3 linked regions of the Homo sapiens genome follow. The protein of the gene in region 1 purifies or fractionates together with the protein of each later gene. This does not show direct contact. Each region holds a gene or a part of one and is shown on either strand. Other genes may lie near its edges. The genes, in order: ANAPC16, ANAPC13 and NEK2.

Region 1 (7,662 bases):
CACCAGAGGTGACCATCCAGGCAGTATCAACCTGAAGAGGGGGTGAATCCCAGCAGCTGCTCGATGGGCTTAAACCGCCACTCGTCAGCCTCCAGCTCTTCTACCAAACCAGCTAGTTTTTCCATCCGAGCAACTTGCTGATCTGTAAGGAGTCAAGGAAAGAATATTATGCAACAACGTATTACCCAAGAGACTGCCACCAGCCACCAAGATGATGACTGGTATAAAAATAATTTCTAGGCCGGGTGTGGTGGATCACGCCTATAATCCCAGCACTTTGGGAGGCCGAGGCGGGCGGATCACGAGGTCAAGAGATCGAGACCATCCTGGCCAATATGGTGAAACCCCATCTCTATAAAAATACAAAAAAAATTAGCTGGACGTGGTGGCATGCGCCTGTAGTCCCAGCTACTCGGGAGGCTGAGGCAGGAGAATCGCTTGAACCCTGGAGGCAGAGGTTGCAGTGAGCCGAGATCGTGCCACTGCATTCCAGCCTGGTGACAGAGTGAGAATCCGTCTCAAAAAAAAAAAATTTCTAGATGGATTTTTTTTTCTCCTCAAGATTCTCTCTCTTTTTTTGGGGGGTGGGGTGGGGGTGGGGAATGGAGTCTTGCTTTGTTGCCCAGGCTGCAGTGCAATGGCGCGATCTCGGCTCACTGAAACCTCTGCCTCGTGGGTTCAAGTGATTCTCCCGCCTCAGCCTCCTGAGTAGCTGGGACTACAGGCACCCGCCATCGTGCCCAGCTAAGTTTTTTATTTTTGTAGAGATGGGGTTTCACCATGTTGGCCAGGCTAGTCTCGAACTCCTGACCTCAGGTGATCTGCCTGCCTCAGCCTCCCAAAGTGCTGGGATTACAGACGTGAGCCACTGTGCCCGACCCTCAAAATTCTCATAATGGGGTCTTATTCTATGCTGGTCAGAAGCTTAATTTTTTTTTTTTTTTTTTTTTTTTTTTGAGACAGAGTTTCACCCTTATTGCCCAGGCTGGAGTGCAATGGTGTGATCTCAGCTCACTGCAACCTCTGTCTCCTGGGTCCAAGCGATTCTGCTGCCTCAGCCTCCCGAGTAGCTGGAATTACAGGCATATGCCACCATGCCTGGCTAATTTTGTATTTTTAGTAGAGATGGGGTTTCTCCATGTTGGTCAGGCCAGTCTCGAACTCCCGACCTCAGGTGATCCGCCCGTGTCAGCCTCCCAAATTGTTGGGATTATAGGCATGAGCCACCGTGCCCGGCCTATTTTTTTTTTTTTAAGTTGGAAGTTTCTTCTAATGTTAAAAGAAGAAAGGCTGGGCGCAGTGGCTCATGCCTGTAATCCAAGCACTTTGGGATGCCAAGGCAGGCGGATCACAAGGTCAAGAGATCAAGACCATCCTGGCCAACATGGTGAAACCCCATCTCTACTAAAAATACAAAAATTAGCTGGGCGTGGTGGCGTGCACCTGTAGTCCCAGCTATTTGTGAGGCTGAGGAAGGAGAATCACTTGAACCCAGGAGGCAAAGGTTGCAGTGAGCCGCGATCATGCCATTGCACTCCAGCCCGGGTGACAGTGAGAGACTCCGTCTCAAAAAATAAAAGTCATTTTAAAATAAAATGATCACATTTTCAGGATGTGCCCTATTTTTTTCCAGAGACAGGGTCTCACTCTGTCACCAAGGCTGGAGTATGCCTCCTGGGCTGAAGCGATCGTCCCAACTCAGCCTCCCACGTAGCTGGGACCACAGGCATGCACCACCATTCTCCACTAATTTTTGTATTTTCTTTTTTTAGATATGGGGTTTCACCATGTTGCCCAGGTCAGTCTTGAACTCCTGGGCTCAAGCAGTCTTCCTGCTTCAGCCTCCCAACGTGCTGGGATTAGAGGCATGAGCTACTGCACCCGGCCTGGATGTGCTCTGTTCCTAAAAAAAGTACTCATCCTCTATGCCATAGTGATTTGTGGACTAAAATCCTAGGGTTAGAGGCAATTACAGCTTTTCCCCCTACATAAAGTTTCAATGGAGAAATGGTCTGGAGGGGGAACACAGTTTGTTGATGCAGAAATGAAGGCCTGGTGAGGCCTAATGTAACAGAAAAAGTGTTATCAGGATGTTAGAGTATAGACAGACCAGGAGGTATCGTACAAATACTTGAAGATGATGATGGTAACCAGTGGAGGACAACAGTAAAAGGAGGTTTCAGACAGGAGAGGAAAAAGTAACACAAGAGGAGCAGGAAGCACTGACTCCCTGGAGGACCAACTTTTTTTGTTTTTCAGACAGGGTCTCTGTTGCACAGGCTAGAGTGCAGTGCTGTGATTCCGGCTCATTGCAGCCTCAACCTCCCGGGCTCAAGTGATCTTCCCACCTCAGCCTCCCAAGTAGCTGGGACTACAGGTATGCGCCACCATGCCTGACTAATTTTTTCTTTGTAGAGATGCAGTTTCACCATGTTGGCCAGGCTGGTCTCAAACTCCTGACCTCAAGTGATCCACCCGCCTCAGCCTCCCAAAGTGCTGGGATTACAAACGTGAGCCACTGCACTCGGCCCCAACCTTAAGCCTCAATGTGGACATTATGACTAGATTAAGACCTAGAATGTTCTTTAATTTAGGAAGTCCACTAAAATAGCCTTGCTGAGTTTGGGGATTTTTGTCACAGCCTCATCCACCCCCTAGCAAATTTATTCTCACAGTCAAGTACGCAACACTCATGTGCTTACCATGTTTCACCTGTTTAAGCGTGGATGCCACTTGATAGCTAAAAACAGATTCGCAGAGGAATCTCTCAGAGCCATCTACAAACAAAAGGAGAAAAGGTTTTAATCTGCTCTAAAGGTTTTATGGCTTCTGATAAACCAAGTAAACTTGTCTATTCTTTTCCCTGCTTGTACATTCAGGGTCTAGTTCTCAGTGTTTACAAAGACGGGTTCTGCTTCATTTAGAACTAAGACTGTTATAAAAGCTATTTATTCTATACCTAGAATATTAAAATAGTCCCTCTACTTAAGAGTTTAAAAATAGTGTTTAAAAAAACAAAAACAAGAAACCTCCGTCTGATGTCCTGGTCAACACTTCCCTCCTCCCAACCTGAGAGTTCCTTAATGTTCTCCTGTATGTCAAGCAAACACTGGCAGCTGACACATTTGGCCTTGTGGCTGGCTCCTGTAGTGTCAAAATATAAAGGTTCACCAAAACTCCAAATCATTTTCAGTCTAAAAAACAAAGCTGAGGAAAAAATTGTTGATTTTTAATATATCAAATTACATCACTCTGACAATCACAGAACACTGCTGGGAAATTTCATTCTGTGAACGCAAACTGTAACCTTGATTTTCCAACTGAACCAAAACACTGCAATTTGGATGACGATAAGAGTATGGTGCAAGTTCAGAACCTAGAATTGTACTGGTGCCAAGAACTGCCAACAAGAAGTGGCCAACTCAGTTGCCACAGCACTTGGAAGATGATCATGAAACATAAGCTAGTTCATGTTATTCCTTGTCAGGCAAGGGCTGATACAGCAAAACATATTCTCAAAAATTTACAGCTCACGTAGAAACATTTGATTTTTAAAAAGGTAGCAGAAACCATTTGGGGGATGTACCTTATTGCGAAAATCCTAAAACAAACGGGGAGAGAGGACACAGCTGTCCTTTTTCAGGCAGTACTTCACGTTAGCACTACTAGGCCTCAAGCATTCACCCATCAATCATGGGTTGTTGTGTTGGCCAGGTATTACATGGCAAGCAGACAGGACTAACACATTCTGGCCTCATGCTGAGTTTCACACAAAGGAAACCTTATTTCAGAAGTCACAATAACCAATTAAAAAAAAAAACAACTATAGATACTGTATCCAAAGAGCTTGAATATATAACCAAGAGGGCATCCTTCCAATATCATCTTCAAAGTGATCAAAAAAAAAAAAAAAAGAGAAAAAGAAAAAAATGAAAGTATAATTATTGGGATGTATACTTTTTGTATTCTTCAGAGACAGTGTTACATTCTGTAAATTCAAACTCAGTCTCAAAAAAAAAAGGGGTTTGAATGTCAGCAGTCATTATCCTATTCATATTCTTGCTTAAAAAGTCCAATTATAACTCATATTTTATTTTAGAAAGAGGAAAGCATAGACAATTAGAGTTTACCTCCCAGATGGTTTGATCCTGAACTTTAGGATTACACACAAGGCAGTGGGAATTATAGGCTATAAGGATCAGGCCAAGATGTATATGGAAGCTCCTGAAAGTGCCACCTCTCACTTGCATTTAATCACAGGCACCATTAGGATAAAATAGTTAAGTTGTGATATTTGCATATTTTCCTTGGTAATGAACTTCAAAGCAAAAGGATATAAGCTAAACTTTCAAAAAGGAACCTCTGCATTTCACTCCACCACACTATATGCCTGTGGAACACACTTTTGCTGATTTGCAGCTCCCTATTAACGTCCAAGTCCAATTGCTTCTTAGCCACATCCTATTAGATGTGGTATCAGTACCAGTCTAAAGCCTGGAATTGCTCCAGAACGGAGTCAGCTGGGGGCAATCTCTTCCATTTAGAAACTGTAATCAAACCCTTTGTAACACAGCAGGTAGCAATACATCAGCTTTCCTTGTCAGGGACAAGCACAGGTCATAAACAGGGAAAAGTTTAGTAAATTACCCAAATCTAACACCATAGCCAACTCCAATAAATAAGGATGGTAACAAATACATTAAAAAGAATATTACCTCACAGTAGGCAATTAGACAATGCCAGATAATTTATACTTCAGTGGCTACAATGTCTCTAAAATACAGCCACTGATGGGCTGGAAGGCAGTTTCTAATGTGCTCAGTAATAACTGGGTGAGGACAATTTTGGCCAAGGGCAGGAGAATGCTGCAAACTGCTGTATGCTGCTTATGTGAGGTGTCTGTTATCAGAGAGCAGAGGCACAAAAAAGTTAATTCACAAGGTTAACTACAGGTGATTTGGGTTTACTATCCTAGACTCACAAGGATGTAACATCAAGTTGAACCTTTTGAGATTAAAAACAGCATCCATCCTTGATTCCTAACTGCTTTTGTTCCTTACTCTTGACAGGCAACCCTTCCTGCTCTATTTTCATATCCTTTTTTTTTTTTTTTAAACCAAGTCTCGCTCTGTCGCCCAGGCTGGGGGGCAGTGGCATGATCTCGGCTCACTGCAACCTCCGCCTCCTGGGTTCAAGCAATTCTCTCAGCCTCCTGAGTAGCTGGGACTATAGGCACACACCACGATGCCTTTTTTTTTTTTTTTTTGTATTTTTAGTAGAGGTGGGGTTTCACCATATTGGTCAGGCTGGTCTCGAACTCCTGACCTCAGGTGATCCGCCCACCTCGGCCTCCCAAAGTGCTGGGATTACAGGCGTGAGGCACCGTGCCCGGCCTCTATTTTCATATTCTATTAAACTATTATTGGTCAGGTACATGTGTGTTAGATTTATTGTATAATAGAATAGTATCACCTATAAACATGGTAGAAAATGCTTCCAAATCCAACATCCTTACATTTCAGAGTACTCTTCTCAATTTAATATTCTTGATTTGACCAAGAATATTAAATGGGTTTAGGGGTTGCCATCTCTACATTATTTTTCAGTCTTTAAGTGTAATACTCTTTATATTCTTAAGATTTTAGATTTTTAAAGATTATCTTAATCTTTTTAAGATTTAAGATTATTGGTAAAACTTGAAATGTAAGAAACACAATCAAAACTGTGCACTGTGTATTTATACTTAATATAAATGTATCCTACAACAGAAACACAACACATTTCTCCATGAAGCATATTGAGATGGAATAAAAATGGATAGATCTATAACTCGTTAGAACATCAACATTCAGACTAATCTCAGAAGCCTTTCTTCTTCAATATCTCCACATAATTTGATGTATACTGACAAAGAATGCTGATAGCTTTGAGACTGTGGAGGTACCTCCTGTATTAAATTCCTCTTATAGCTAGAATTTAAATGACTTTAATCTTAGAGCTCCATTGTTGAATATGGATTCTTCTGCTGCTATAAAACTCATTAAGCAATTTAAGTGTCTCCCATTTTTGATTTGTTTTGTGGGAAACTTCCTTAATACTAGGTCTTTGCTGCATATAAATGAAGTCATAATATAGTTTTAGCACCAAATATGGTAACAGGGCCCCAATTGTTCACTACTTCTAACCAGACTCAGTGATACTAACTTGAGTATTTAGTTAACACAATTAAAGAAAATAAAAAGGCAAAGAGAGAAGTACATGTATCACTAATTACATATGCTACCTGGTCATCTACCTCACCACTAGTCATAACCCAAACCAATCCTAGGGAGCTCTATGGTCCCAGAGTCCCCCCGTGGTTTCCTGTCACAAATGATTTTGGGCTTAACCCGTAACTCTTTTTATTATTTCTGATTATTCATCACCCCCAAGGCCAACTATAGTTTGTATCTTTTCTTTTCTTTTTTTTTTTTTGAGACAAGGTCTCCATCACCCAGGCTCGAATGCAGTGATGCGATCACAGCTCACTGCAGCCTCCACCTCCCAGGCTCAGGTGAACCTCCCACCTCACCTTCCTAAGTAGCTGGGACTACAGCCACGTGCCACCACACCCAGCTAATTTTCTATTTTTTCTAGAGACAGGATTTCGTCATGTTGCCCAGGCTGGTCTCAAACTCCTGGGTTCAAGCAATCTGCCTGCCTCAGCCTCCCAAAGTGCTGGGATTACAGGTGTGAGTCACTATGCCTGGCCTATAGTTTGTATCTTTCTCACAGATATTCCTAGATTAGTTTTAAAATATAGTTGTGTAAATTTGAAATATTAAGGCCAGGTGCGGTGGTTCATGCCTGTAATCATAGCACTTTGGGAGGCTGAGGTGGGCAGATCATTTGAGGTCAGGAGTTCAAGCTCAGCCTGGGCAACATGGCGAAACCCTGCCTCTATTAAAAATATTAAAAAAATTAGCCAGGTGTGGTGGTGGGCACCTGTAATCCCAGCTGCTTGGGAGGCTGGGGCAGGAGAATCACTTGAACCCGGGAGGCAGAGGTTGTAGTGAGCCAAGATCGAGCCACTGCACTACAGCCTGGGCAACAGAGCGAGACTCTGTCTCAAAAAAAAAAAAAAATTGCAACACTTAAAGGAAAAAAGATCAATATATAATTAAGCACTAAAATACTAGAATCAAGTAAATTTTGAATCCTTAATAGGTTATTCCCCAAAGCTTTTTTTTTGCTTTTTTTTTTTGAGACAGAGTCTTGCTCTGTCACCAGCCTGGAGTACAGTGGCATGATATCTGCTCACCGCAACCTCTGCCTCCCAGATTCAAGTGATTCTCCTGCCTCAGCCTCCTGAGTAGCTGGACTACAGGCATGCGCCACCACATCCAGCTAATTTTTTTGTATTTTTAGTAGAGACGGGGTTTCACCATGTTAGCCAAGATGGTCTCAATCTCCTGACCTTGTGATCTGCCTGCCTTGGCCTCCAGAAGTGCTGGGATTACAGGCGTGAGTTACTGCGCCTGGCCTCCCAGTGCTTTTTAAAAATTTATTATTACTATTTTTTGAGACAGAGTCTCATTCTGTCACCCAGGCTGGAGTGCCATGGCATGATCATGGCTCAATGCAACCTTGAACTCCTGGGCTCAAACAATCCTCATGCCTTGG
Region 2 (7,640 bases), on another chromosome or scaffold:
GGATGCTCTCCAGAAGCTTCTAGAGTTAGAGAATTCCACAGCTTTGATTTCTTTGCCACACTAGTTTATCTTCCATTGATATCCCTCCTCCACTAGTTACTGCCAGATCAATACCTTTAACCCATCCTCAGCTCAAATCATAACCTACCAGTGGTATTGCGACATCCTCATAAGGCAGCTTGTCTTCTCGCCAAGCATCATCAATCAAATCCAAGATCCTTCCATCTCTCTGAACCTCACTGTCCATTTTCCTGCAGCTTTGATCTTGTCAAATCTGTAAGCCAAAGAGGTTATTTCTTAAACACGAAGACTGAAGAGATGGTATAATCCACTATTAGGATTCTCCAGGCTTTTTAGTCTGGGGCCACCTTTTGGGAAAAGGTTCATTTTCTCATATGGGCCGGGTGACTACTTTGATCACAGTTCCTCTCTCCAACCCCAACTGATACATATTTTATAGTGTATACTGGACAGGCATAGCCCAGCTGACAGACCAGTGTCATAGAGTGTGACAGGAGAGCAACACGTTAAACGAGGCCCTCAAATATTAATATGTTGCATCTCAATGTAGCTCTTCTCTTCTAACTTGAACATTCACCTTTTCCTGTTTGTGATGCCTTTGATGAGTCCCTGATTCATAATGGCCAGCTAAGTTTCCTTTCTAGCCCCTGGCTCAAACCTCAGCATTCTTAGGCACAGGAGTCACACGAACATACTGTAAAGGAAACGGCTTCCTTCCCTAAAATAGTACCCAGGCTGAGATCTGAATAAAGCACTTCTAGGTGAACACCAGTGGTAGAACCTCATACTGCTAAAGTTTCTCCAGTTTCTGCTTCCCTTTGGGGTAGCTCCTTCCTCGGAGGTTCCTTCCTCTAATTCTTAACGCTACACTCCCTTCAATTTCTGGCCCAAATGGTCACGATGCTTATTTAGCTCCTTGACCATGGCTGATTCCCCATTTTTCTCTGAAACTGCTATAATCTAATCCAAAAGGCTGGCTAGCTTGTAGGATACTTCTGGATTTCCCTGTTTCCAAGGTTGGGCCCTGACTCATCATAGGCATCATCCTATGGGTGCTCCCTGCTACCAAGTGACAATCCAAAAAGCCCGGAAGCCACTGGCATCAAAGGTACTCTCAGTTTCTGAGACTATGGAGACTCACACAATAAGCAATTTTGGGGTGGTGGAGCGGGGTGGAACCCACCATCTGGAGGTGCTTTTTTCAGAGCTCAGCCTGGGTGATATTTTAAGGAAGGAAGCCATTTCCTTTACAAGCTCAACTTCAGACATCGTCTTGCCTTGAGGATTTGTGTCAGGTCTGTAGTTGGTCCCTTCGCATAGTCCAGTTTAGTGTTATCTCAGTATGTTCATGAGCTCCTGTGCCTAAGAACGCTGAGGTTTGGGCCAAGGCAGGTGGAAGTTTTTGTAAAAATGGCTCACAGGGCCGGGCGCGGTGGCTCGCGCCTGTAATCCAGCACTTTGGGAGACCGAGGTGGGCGGATCACGAGGTCAGGAGATCAACACCATCCTGGCTAACAGGGTGAAACCTCGTCTCTACTAAAAATACAAAAAATTAGCCGAGCATGGTGGCAGGCGCCTGTAGTCCCAGCTACTCGGGAGGCTGAGGCAGGAGAATGGCGTGAACCTGGGAGGCGGAGCTTGCAGTGAGCCGAGATAGCGCCACGCGCCACTGCACTCCAGCCTGGGCGACAGAGCAAGATTCCGTCTCGGAAAAAAAAAAACAAAAAAAACCAAAAAGGCTCACAGCTGTCCCCCATAGGATAACTGCAAGATATCCCTAACACCTTGGCAAAAATTATACACAGATTGGTGTGGGAAAGGGTTTACACCCCCATGACAAGGATCTCGGCAAAAGTTAAGCAAAATGCGCCCTGCTACTTCTGTCACCGGTGAGCCAGGTGAGGGCTTAATTAATCCAGTACTCAATAATTAACCGAGTACTACCCAGTGGATAACTCAAAGCAAGACGAAGTTTTGGTTATACTTTTGAAGTCCCTGTCTTACAAGTGCTCCCCACTTTCCTGCTGCTACTCCTTTGTCCTTGCTGCTCTGTCTCCTGGGATACCCTTCTCACTTTCCTCAGCTGATCCAAACCTGACTTTCGGAGGCCCACGTAGATTTTCCACCTTTGTAAAGTTTTCTCAAATCACTCGAGCTTCAGTAGGCCTTCTATCCTTGAACTCTTGCTTCTTGTCCTAACTTAATCTACTAAACAAGCTAGGTCAGCTTTGTGGTCAATTGCTCAGGTATTATTGCCTCCAACTGTTACGTGTACATTTTGTACCCATGATTCCTTAGTAGATCTTTCCACATTTGGTCTCAATCTTTTTCACCTGTCCCTTCTCCAAACACCTCCAACCCTGTCACATTTTCCAGCCTTGACAGTTAAAACCCCCTTTTCCACATCACTAATGCCACTCTTCCTTTCAAGATAAACGCAGGCGTCAGCTCTTGAAGGTCAACATCCCATTTCCGGGATTAGGCGCGAAGGTGCCTTCCCTCATAAGGGGCTGGAAGGATGGGAAGCATCAAGATAATCAATGCCCAGGGCACACTGATTATCTTGTGTATTAAAGCCACCGTCCCAAGTACTCGTCACCCAGTACGACCACTGTTTCCTGAACAAACTTTTCTTACTCACGTGACAGTCCCGATGCCTGCAATGCTCTTTGTTTCTTCCTTTTTATTCCAGTGAACCCACAGTCAGTCTAAAAATCTTAGGTCCCAGGTCGCTTCCTATAGGAGGCCGCCTCCAAACCCCAGGCTGAGTGCGGTCCCGGTACCCACCCCTCCAGGGGTCTCACAGTTCCCTAAGCACAGAGCATGGCACCAACTGGGGAGTCTGTCAAACAGCCCAGATGAATGTCTTTCCAAACACGCGGTGCCTGCGTTTCCAGGGACAGGGACACGTCTTATCAATTTCTATATATTACAGCTTTGTAAACATAATATTTATAAAATCAAAGCGGGAAAGCCTTGTTCCTTGCTAGAAATGAGCCTCGCAGGCCACCACCATCCGCACCGTACGACAGGCCGTCCCTCAGCTGCGGCTTCCTGCCTCAGGCAGGATGTACCAAACGTGGAAGCGGAGACGGGGAGGTCTGGGGGTGCCACGCAAGTCCCTTTCCTCCCGACACGAGTGCAGTAAAGAAAAACGGTTATGAGCGTAAAGTGACAGCCTCGGCCGATGGGAATAGGGGGAAGTCCGACACTGAGCAACGAACGCATTCCCGCGCCTCCAAAACCTAGGCCGGGGGCGCTGGAAACCCTTACCGGCACCCGGCCACCGCGGCAGACGCTTGCTCCTGCCACGCCCCCCCCCCCTCCCCCGCATCACGTGTCTGCACTCGCTTTCCTCGGATTCCCGGATGTGGGTGAGTTCATTTGCTCGCGTGCAGGGGAAGTCTGGAGAAGGCATTGTTTCAATTATTAAAAGTGTGGGGGCAGTGGGCGGAACAAACGCGCCGACTACAGAGGCTGGACGTAAGCTTAGCGGTGGCGCGCGTGCGCAGCGCCGGCCCGAGGTAACGGCGGGAAGGCTCAGGGGCGTGCTTGCGGCAACCCTGTAACCGCCGGTGCGCAAGTTGGAGGGGCAAGGGGCTGCCGTGTCCTGGTCTGGAGGCGGCCCAGGCTGCCTTGGTGATTCTGGCTTCGCGGCCTCATGGCTTGCGGCCGGTTTGCGCAACGGCCTGCGAACCACCAGGCGCGTCCCCGCCGGCTTGGGTCCGCCCCGAAGCCCAGTCCCTCGGCCTGGCCCGCTATGCCCTGCACACTGGCGGAGTCTGGCGTGGCGCAGCCCGGCGTGGGGTTCGGCCCCGCCAGGTGGTCAGCCCTTCCTCGGAGTCCAGGTGGCTGGGGGCGCTTCGGAGAGTGGCCAGGTGGGCGAGCGAGCTGCGCCCAGTACTCACCTTCCCCGGCGGACCCACCTTCCTTTTCAGCGGAGAGACCCCAGTGCGGCCTCCCTGCCAGGGCTGCTGTCTAGCTAGCGCTGTTGGGACTACTTCATTCACGGCACAAGGGGACCCGCTCATTTAGTGTGGCATGTTAAGGTTGGCAGCTTTTAAAATAGTGAGTTGGTTTAAACGGTTATGTTAGTACAAGAGGTACGGAAATGTGGCATAAATCGTGGACTGAAATTGGAGAACCCTGAACTAACGGCTCCATGCACACAAATGAGGGATAGAAAGAAATAAGGACGGTTTCTTAGGAACACTTTAATCATGGAGATACTTGAAGACAGTACATTTAGGCTTATAATGTGGTTTTTCTTACGTCCCTTACGACATCAGGAGAGTAAAGATGAGTATGATGTCAGAGACAGGTCGTCTTTTACAGTTTCAGCACCGTACGCTGATATGCACAGAGTAGTTTTCCCTGAGCCTTATGTCTGGTTAAACTTATTAAAAGAATTTATTATTTTAATAAAGCAGTATTGTAGGGTAGATGCCCTGTATTTATACAGTTCCTCAAGTGCTTGCATTTATTTTTTAGATACGAGGAAATCATAAGGATCGTTGATTAGATTTCTGTTAGCTGTAGCTTAATGATAAAGTGTATATATTTTCTTATTTGGCATGCAGTACCATTTTTAGATTGATTTTTATTTTGAGTTTGCTTTTTGACTGTGGCATTATCAGTGATCAGGGTAGTAAAAAGCTCTGAAACTAAATTAGAGTAGAGATTTATAAACAGGCACACTGCCTTTTAAAATGTATGTAGATGCAAATCTAAAAGTTGTTTGTAAAAATTGTGTATGTTGATTGTACTGATGCCATTTCCTCTCGTTAAAATGGTGGAAGACCTTTGCTTAGTCCTTTCTGTTCTAATTTATGTTGTGCTGGCAGATGGTGACAGCATCAGTAGTCCACTCTGTCATTGCTTCCTGCTTTCAAAAAATGTCAACTTGACTTGAAATTCAGCTAAAGCCAACATTGACAGAAGGTTTCAGGAACTGAATCTCCGATCTTTATGTTATTTTAGTCCGCCTCCCCGCCCCCATCAGGAGCTAGGTTTTTCAGTTTTACAGAGCCACAGTACTGTCATTACACATACACAAATTAATAAAAATTCTCTAATGTCAATATCCAGTCAGATAACGATTTCTTCAACTGTCTCTTAAATGTCTTTTTACAATTAGCTTGTTTGAACCAAAATCCCACAGGGATCTGCCTATTGTGTTTGGGTGATGCACATTTGACATCTTTTAATCTATATTTGTTCCCTCATAGTTATAGCTATGGGATTAGCCCCTATTTTTCCTTACAGTTCTAAATTTAGCAGATTGCATCGCACAGTATCCTTTAACATGTATCTCTGTTGCCTTTGTGTCCTCTAAACCAGGGGCCCCCAAACCCGGGGCCGCAGAGCAGTACCAGTCCGTGGCCTGTTAGGAACCAGGCTACAGAGCAGGAGGTGAGTGACAGGCTAGTGAGCATTACCTACCACCTGAGCTCTGCCTCCTGTCAGATCAGCCGTGAGGTTAGATTCTCCTAGGGGCACGAACCCTATTGTAAACTGCGCATGCAAGGAATCTAGGTTGCACACTTATAAGAATCTGACTAATGCCTGATGATCTGAGGTGGAATAGTTTCATCCTGAAACCATGCCCCTAACCCTGTCCATGTGTATTATTCATATTACTGAAGAAGTGGTTGGCCGGGCGCGGTGACTCACGCCTGTAATCCCAGCACTTTGGGAGGCCGAGGTGGGCATGAGGTCAGGAGTTTGAGACCAGTGTGGCCAACATAGTGAAACCCCGTCTCTACTGAAAATGCAATAAAATTAGCCGAGTGTGGTGGTGTGCGCCTGTAATCCCAGCTACTCGGGAGGCTGAGGCAGGAGAATCACGTGAATCCGGGAGGCGGAGGTTGCAGTGAGCCGAGATCACACCATTGCTCTCCAGACCAGGCAAGAGTGCAAGACTCGGTCTCAAAAAACAAAAAAAAGTGGTTTGGCCATTCCTCCCCCAAAACATTTCATATGAATTTTAACAAAAAGATATTTACAAAATGTGTTATTTCCGCCCTGTCGGTGTTGAGAAATTGTCTTCCATGAAACAGGTCCCTGGTGCCAAAAAGGTTGGGGACCACTGCTCTAAACCAGTAGTTAGATGTAGAATTGCACTGTCCGGTATTGTAGCCACCAGCCAGCAGTGGCTAGTTAATTAAAGTGAAATAAAATTAAAAATTCAGTTCCTAGGCTGGGCGCGGTGGCTCACGCCTGTAATCCCAGCACTTTGGGAGGCTGAGGTGGGTGGATCACGAGGTCAGGAGTTCGAGACCAGCCTGACCAACATGGTGAAACCCCGTCTCTACTAAAAATGAAAAATTAGCCGGGCGTGGTGGCATGCGCCTGTAATCTCAGCTACTAAGGAAGCTGAGGCAGGAGAAGGAGAATCGCTTGAACCCGGGAGGTGGAGGTTGCAGTGAGCCGAGATCACGCCACTGCACTCCAGCCTGGGTGACGGAGCGAGACTGTCTCAAAAAAAAAAAAAAAAAAAAAATTCAGTTCCTAACTTGCATTAGCCACATTTCAAGTGCTCGGTAGCTACAGATTGCCTGGTGGCTGCTTTTTGAACAGTGCAGTTATAAAATATTTTCATAATTGCAGAAAGTTGTATTGAACAGCACTGCTCTAGAAGCCTGATGAGATTTCACCCTTATATTTGTTTTTGTTTTGTTTTTTGGTGGGATAGTTGGGGGGGTTGGACAGATAATTTCATAGGTAATGCAGTATACTTCCTATTTCATTAATTATCAGGGAAGCAGTGTCTGAGTTGTTTTCTTTTTTTATGATGTTAACATTAAACATTATATTGGGTTTAGGTGTAGTTAGCTCCATCCACCCATAGTGAAATTCCCCAAGACTCTTTCACTTAGTGGTGAAGTCCTTTTGTGGGGTTATATTGCCTGTATCCGTTATTGCATTAGAGGTTGCAACGTGGTGATTATCTAATTCTATTATTTCTTCAATATTTATCAACTGAGAGTCTTTTATGAAGAACTTTCCCTTTCCAGCTGTTTGACTACCCTGAAATACAATTTGTACAGGAAAGGCAAGAAAAATGCTTAATTCTTTGCCTCTATTTTCAGACCACAGTAATGAGTTGGTGGCCTAGCAGCCTCCAAAGGTAACCATGAGGGTTTTTGCCTTTTTGTAAACCTATAATCATGAACTTATAGACTTTATATTTAAACTGTTTCAACATATGGCAGTTGTGTTTTTAATACTCAAATTGTTTCATCTTTGGCCAGTGGGAGCTCCTTAAAGTTGGCTCCTATTCCATTTGATATGACCAATAGCTTTGGTAATTTCCTTGCTTTCTGGTAAATAATTTTCCTGGCTCATTTATAGATTTCTGGTCTTCAAGGAGCCGTGGTTCTTTTGAGTCTGAGATAGTATTTGGAGACCACAGTCTTACCTAGGTGGGAGAGGTGTTCTTGCTACTAGGTTAGTCGTTAGTTCTAGGATTTATGGTGGCCAGAGTTAGGAAATATTATATATTAAAAAAAACACAAATATGCAAAATTCGCATTGTTTCCAACATTTAACATTTAAATTTCCAAAATTTAAACTTAATTTTACAGTTTTTTCACACGTTGGATTTATGTTTGTATCTT
Region 3 (4,012 bases), on another chromosome or scaffold:
CCCTACTTAAGTTAGATTGATGATCACAATAACTTTGTAGTGAATAAGTGATGGAAAGAAATGAAACTACTGATAGAAGTAAATGAAACAAGGATTATATGAAACTTTGGCTTCATCTCTGTTAAAATACCTTCTTTTTTCCCAATATTGCAGTCTACCATTTCAATATTATAAAAATATTTATTCTGGCTTTTCATAGATTCCACACTGTCATCCATAAAGACAAAATAGACTTAAATCATGATTAGGGTGATAAAATGAGGAGAAAATTTTACCTGGATGAATTTCATGCATCAAACCCATTGCAGAGAATTACTTAAGACCCTGTTGGGGATGGCTGTTCGGTTAAAGAGTTTATTTACATTTGCCCTGATAGTCTTTGAGCAAAAGATGAAAATAGCTAAGTAAGGATGATGTGTTTTACTTTATAGGATACACAGATAAGTATGGGAATCTACTTATATGTGAATCATGGCAAATATTTAAAATGAGCCATAGGAATCAAGTATCCACTGGGGCAAGCAGACATTTTAGGGTATTGAGTGCTGAAAGTAGTGAACACATCAGAGCTATAAGATAAGCATCATAGCAGTGGGGAGCGGGTACCATTCTGAACTCAGGACAGTTGGAAATATTCTCTCCCCATCCTTGGGCTATAAAATCCACACGTGAGGAAGCCATCACAAGTATATTGAAATCATCACAGCAAGCAGCAGTGTCTTTTTTAAAAGCTGTTCTTTTCGTATTTGATGAAATATTCATTCTTCTATTTAATGGAAGAATTTTAAAAATGTTTTTAAAACACTTTCTTTCTTATAAAACTGTCCCATTAAGAGCCAAGTGTGGTGACGCACCTATAGTCCCAGCTACTCTGGGGCTCAGGCAGGAAGATCACTTAAGCCGAGGCGTCCAAGGCTGTAGTGCACTACAGCTGCACCTGTGACTAGCCACTGCACTCCAGCCTGGAAAACATGGCAAGACCCCATCTCAGACAAAAACAAAAACAAAATAAAACTATCCCATTAGTAAGACAATGTTGACTTACAAATGTAAAGGTATTTGTGGTAATAAGAAGGTGGATAGAGTTGAAACAGTGGAGATAAGGTCTAAAAGCAATCCAGTTTGCTTTGAAGCAGAAGCGACGTATGAAGCGGGAAGTCACAGGACCCTTGGAAGGCAGTGCATCTGTGTGCCAGCCTTTCCTATTTCTTCTGCCTGGAGCACTCTTCATCCAGACAGCCCTGTGGCTTCTTACTTCAGAAATGCTGTATGAGGCTTTGTATCATTACACCCAGCACCCAGCACCCAGCATGTCCCTGTTTCCAGAGCTATTTTTCCTAATAGCACGTATTACCATCAAATATTCCCCACCAGTACTTGTTTGTTTGTGTTTGGTTTATCTCCTCCTACTAGAATAGGGCCTTTGTTTGGTTCACAGTGGCCCATCCTATGAGCTCAGTAAATATTCGAACATATTTCCTTTAACACAAAAAATAAAAGGATTCTAGAATCTGTAAGCCTCCAGCCCCCAGTAATTCTGTCAGCAGTTAATAGTGTTGCCACTTTAAGTAAATATGATTATTATTTATTTTTTCCATGTAAAGAATAGTTTACAGTTTTTACTACTCTTACTTGATTTACCTTTTCCACACTGAATTTGTTTAGATTTTTTGGAAACAGATTTCTCGTCCATTAAGATGCTTTGAACTAAGTGTTCTTGAACATTTAACCAAAACTGTAGGTGTTCTCTATTTAAAAAAAAAAAAAAAAACAAAGACAGAAAAAAACCTCTGCTTCTACACTTTTCTGTAGGTAAGGTGTTCTGCATAGAATGGCACTTATTTTCAAGGACAGAGATAAATAACATTGATTTCCAAAAGTTTTATGTTGTCCATAATACTCAGTGTGTTTAAGAGTAAAATTGATTGTTGGTTGTTAAGAGAATAAAACTTATGTTCCTTGAATTTTGGCACATTCCAATATTATTTTTTCAATGCTGTGGATTAAAAGGCTGATTTCTGCAAGTCCTACACCCCTAACCTCCTATCCCAGAGAAAATAAAACAGGCACCTAGATTTCAAATGTGAGCCATAAGAGCAAATACTTTTTGATAAGTATAAGTATGAAGGAGTTGAACTCTGTTCAAGTAACTCAGAGCCCTTTTTCTTTTTCCTTCTAAAGAACTTCTTAATCTTCCATCCTCAGTAATTAAGAAGAAAGTTCATTTCAGTGGGGAAAGTAAAGAGAACATCATGAGGAGTGAGAATTCTGAGAGTCAGCTCACATCTAAGTCCAAGTGCAAGGACCTGAAGAAAAGGCTTCACGCTGCCCAGCTGCGGGCTCAAGCCCTGTCAGATATTGAGAAAAATTACCAACTGAAAAGCAGACAGATCCTGGGCATGCGCTAGCCAGGTAGAGAGACACAGAGCTGTGTACAGGATGTAATATTACCAACCTTTAAAGACTGATATTCAAATGCTGTAGTGTTGAATACTTGGTTCCATGAGCCATGCCTTTCTGTATAGTACACATGATATTTCGGAATTGGTTTTACTGTTCTTCAGCAACTATTGTACAAAATGTTCACATTTAATTTTTCTTTCTTCTTTTAAGAACATATTATAAAAAGAATACTTTCTTGGTTGGGCTTTTAATCCTGTGTGTGATTACTAGTAGGAACATGAGATGTGACATTCTAAATCTTGGGAGAAAAAATAATGTTAGGAAAAAAATATTTATGCAGGAAGAGTAGCACTCACTGAATAGTTTTAAATGACTGAGTGGTATGCTTACAATTGTCATGTCTAGATTTAAATTTTAAGTCTGAGATTTTAAATGTTTTTGAGCTTAGAAAACCCAGTTAGATGCAATTTGGTCATTAATACCATGACATCTTGCTTATAAATATTCCATTGCTCTGTAGTTCAAATCTGTTAGCTTTGTGAAAATTCATCACTGTGATGTTTGTATTCTTTTTTTTTTTCTGTTTAACAGAATATGAGCTGTCTGTCATTTACCTACTTCTTTCCCACTAAATAAAAGAATTCTTCAGTTTCCCTGTAGTTATGTGTCTTGCATTTGTTGGTCTCTTAGTTGATGGGAGTTGTGTTTATGATTTGTAGGTCTTCATTGTAGGGTACAGAAGGAAACATGGATCTGATGCTCAAGGGAGTGGCATTCCAGTCCTAAACTGTATGGCGCTTTACCTCCCATCTCATTAATCCATGTATGTAAGCCAGTGGTCCTTAACAGGGTGATTTTGCTCCTCAAGAGACGTTTGGCAATGTCTGGGGGCATTTTTGATTGTCATGATTTGGGGTAGGGTGCTACTGGCTGCTAGTGGGTACAGGCCAGGGACACTGTAAACATTTTACAATGCACAGGACAGCTGCTGACAACAAAATGTCCATGGGTTTGGATCATAATCCTGAATGATACAATCTCAAATGCGAAAATCCTGAAAGACCAAAATCCCTAATGTCTTAAATCCCAAAAGATCAGAATCCCTAATGTGTGAACTTCCAAAATCACAATCCTGAAAGATTAAAATCCCAGATGTTAAAATCCTGAAAGCCGAATTTGAGGTTAGGGATTAGTGCCGTTTCAGCTGTATACAGGATAATTGCATCATGTTAGGCAGAACTATTACCTTGTTATTGTCTTCATTTGGAAATTAAGTATGGTTTAAGAGATGTGGATGGATATCGAGTTGATAAGGGGTGAACTTGTTGATTTATGTGTCAACTTGACTGGATTAAGGAATCCCTAGAAATCTGGTAAAGCATTATTTTAGATGTGTCTGTGAGGGTGTTTCCAGAGGAGGTTAATATGTGAGTCTCAGTAGACTAGGTGGGGAATATCTTTCCTCAATGTTTAGTGTTTTGAAGATCATAAAAGCGACTTTTCAGGTGAAAAGTACAAGAAATCTCTCCTGCCAAATTATTCAGTTATGTACAAATTCTGCTCCTTCATGAATAGTGCCACGCTTGCCTTAAAAAAATGCCCTTTGTCA

What was found.
Region 2: the proteins of ANAPC16 (region 1) and ANAPC13 purify together in Homo sapiens (affinity purification with mass spectrometry; 4 studies listed by BioGRID and IntAct, with this or other methods). This does not show direct contact.
Region 3: the proteins of ANAPC16 (region 1) and NEK2 purify together in Homo sapiens (affinity purification with mass spectrometry; 2 studies listed by BioGRID and IntAct, with this or other methods). This does not show direct contact.

What each region holds. Positions count from the first base shown.
Region 1 is NC_000010.11:72,225,481-72,233,142, reverse strand, and holds part of ANAPC16 (anaphase-promoting complex subunit 16), read right to left. Parts: intron 2,778-7,662; coding exon 2,703-2,777; intron 143-2,702; coding exon 27-142; 3' UTR 1-26. UniProt on the Homo sapiens protein: Component of the anaphase promoting complex/cyclosome (APC/C), a cell cycle-regulated E3 ubiquitin ligase that controls progression through mitosis and the G1 phase of the cell cycle.
Region 2 is NC_000003.12:134,482,658-134,490,297, forward strand, and holds the start of ANAPC13 (anaphase-promoting complex subunit 13), read right to left. Parts: upstream 3,329-7,640; 5' UTR 3,295-3,328; exon of another isoform or gene 2,663-3,294; intron 275-2,662; 5' UTR 248-274; coding exon 149-247; intron 1-148. Other genes in the region: CEP63 (centrosomal protein of 63 kDa), read left to right, coding at 4,063-4,070. UniProt on the Homo sapiens protein: Component of the anaphase promoting complex/cyclosome (APC/C), a cell cycle-regulated E3 ubiquitin ligase that controls progression through mitosis and the G1 phase of the cell cycle.
Region 3 is NC_000001.11:211,661,822-211,665,833, reverse strand, and holds the end of NEK2 (serine/threonine-protein kinase Nek2), read left to right. Parts: intron 1-2,181; coding exon 2,182-2,408; 3' UTR 2,409-3,062; downstream 3,063-4,012. UniProt on the Homo sapiens protein: Protein kinase which is involved in the control of centrosome separation and bipolar spindle formation in mitotic cells and chromatin condensation in meiotic cells.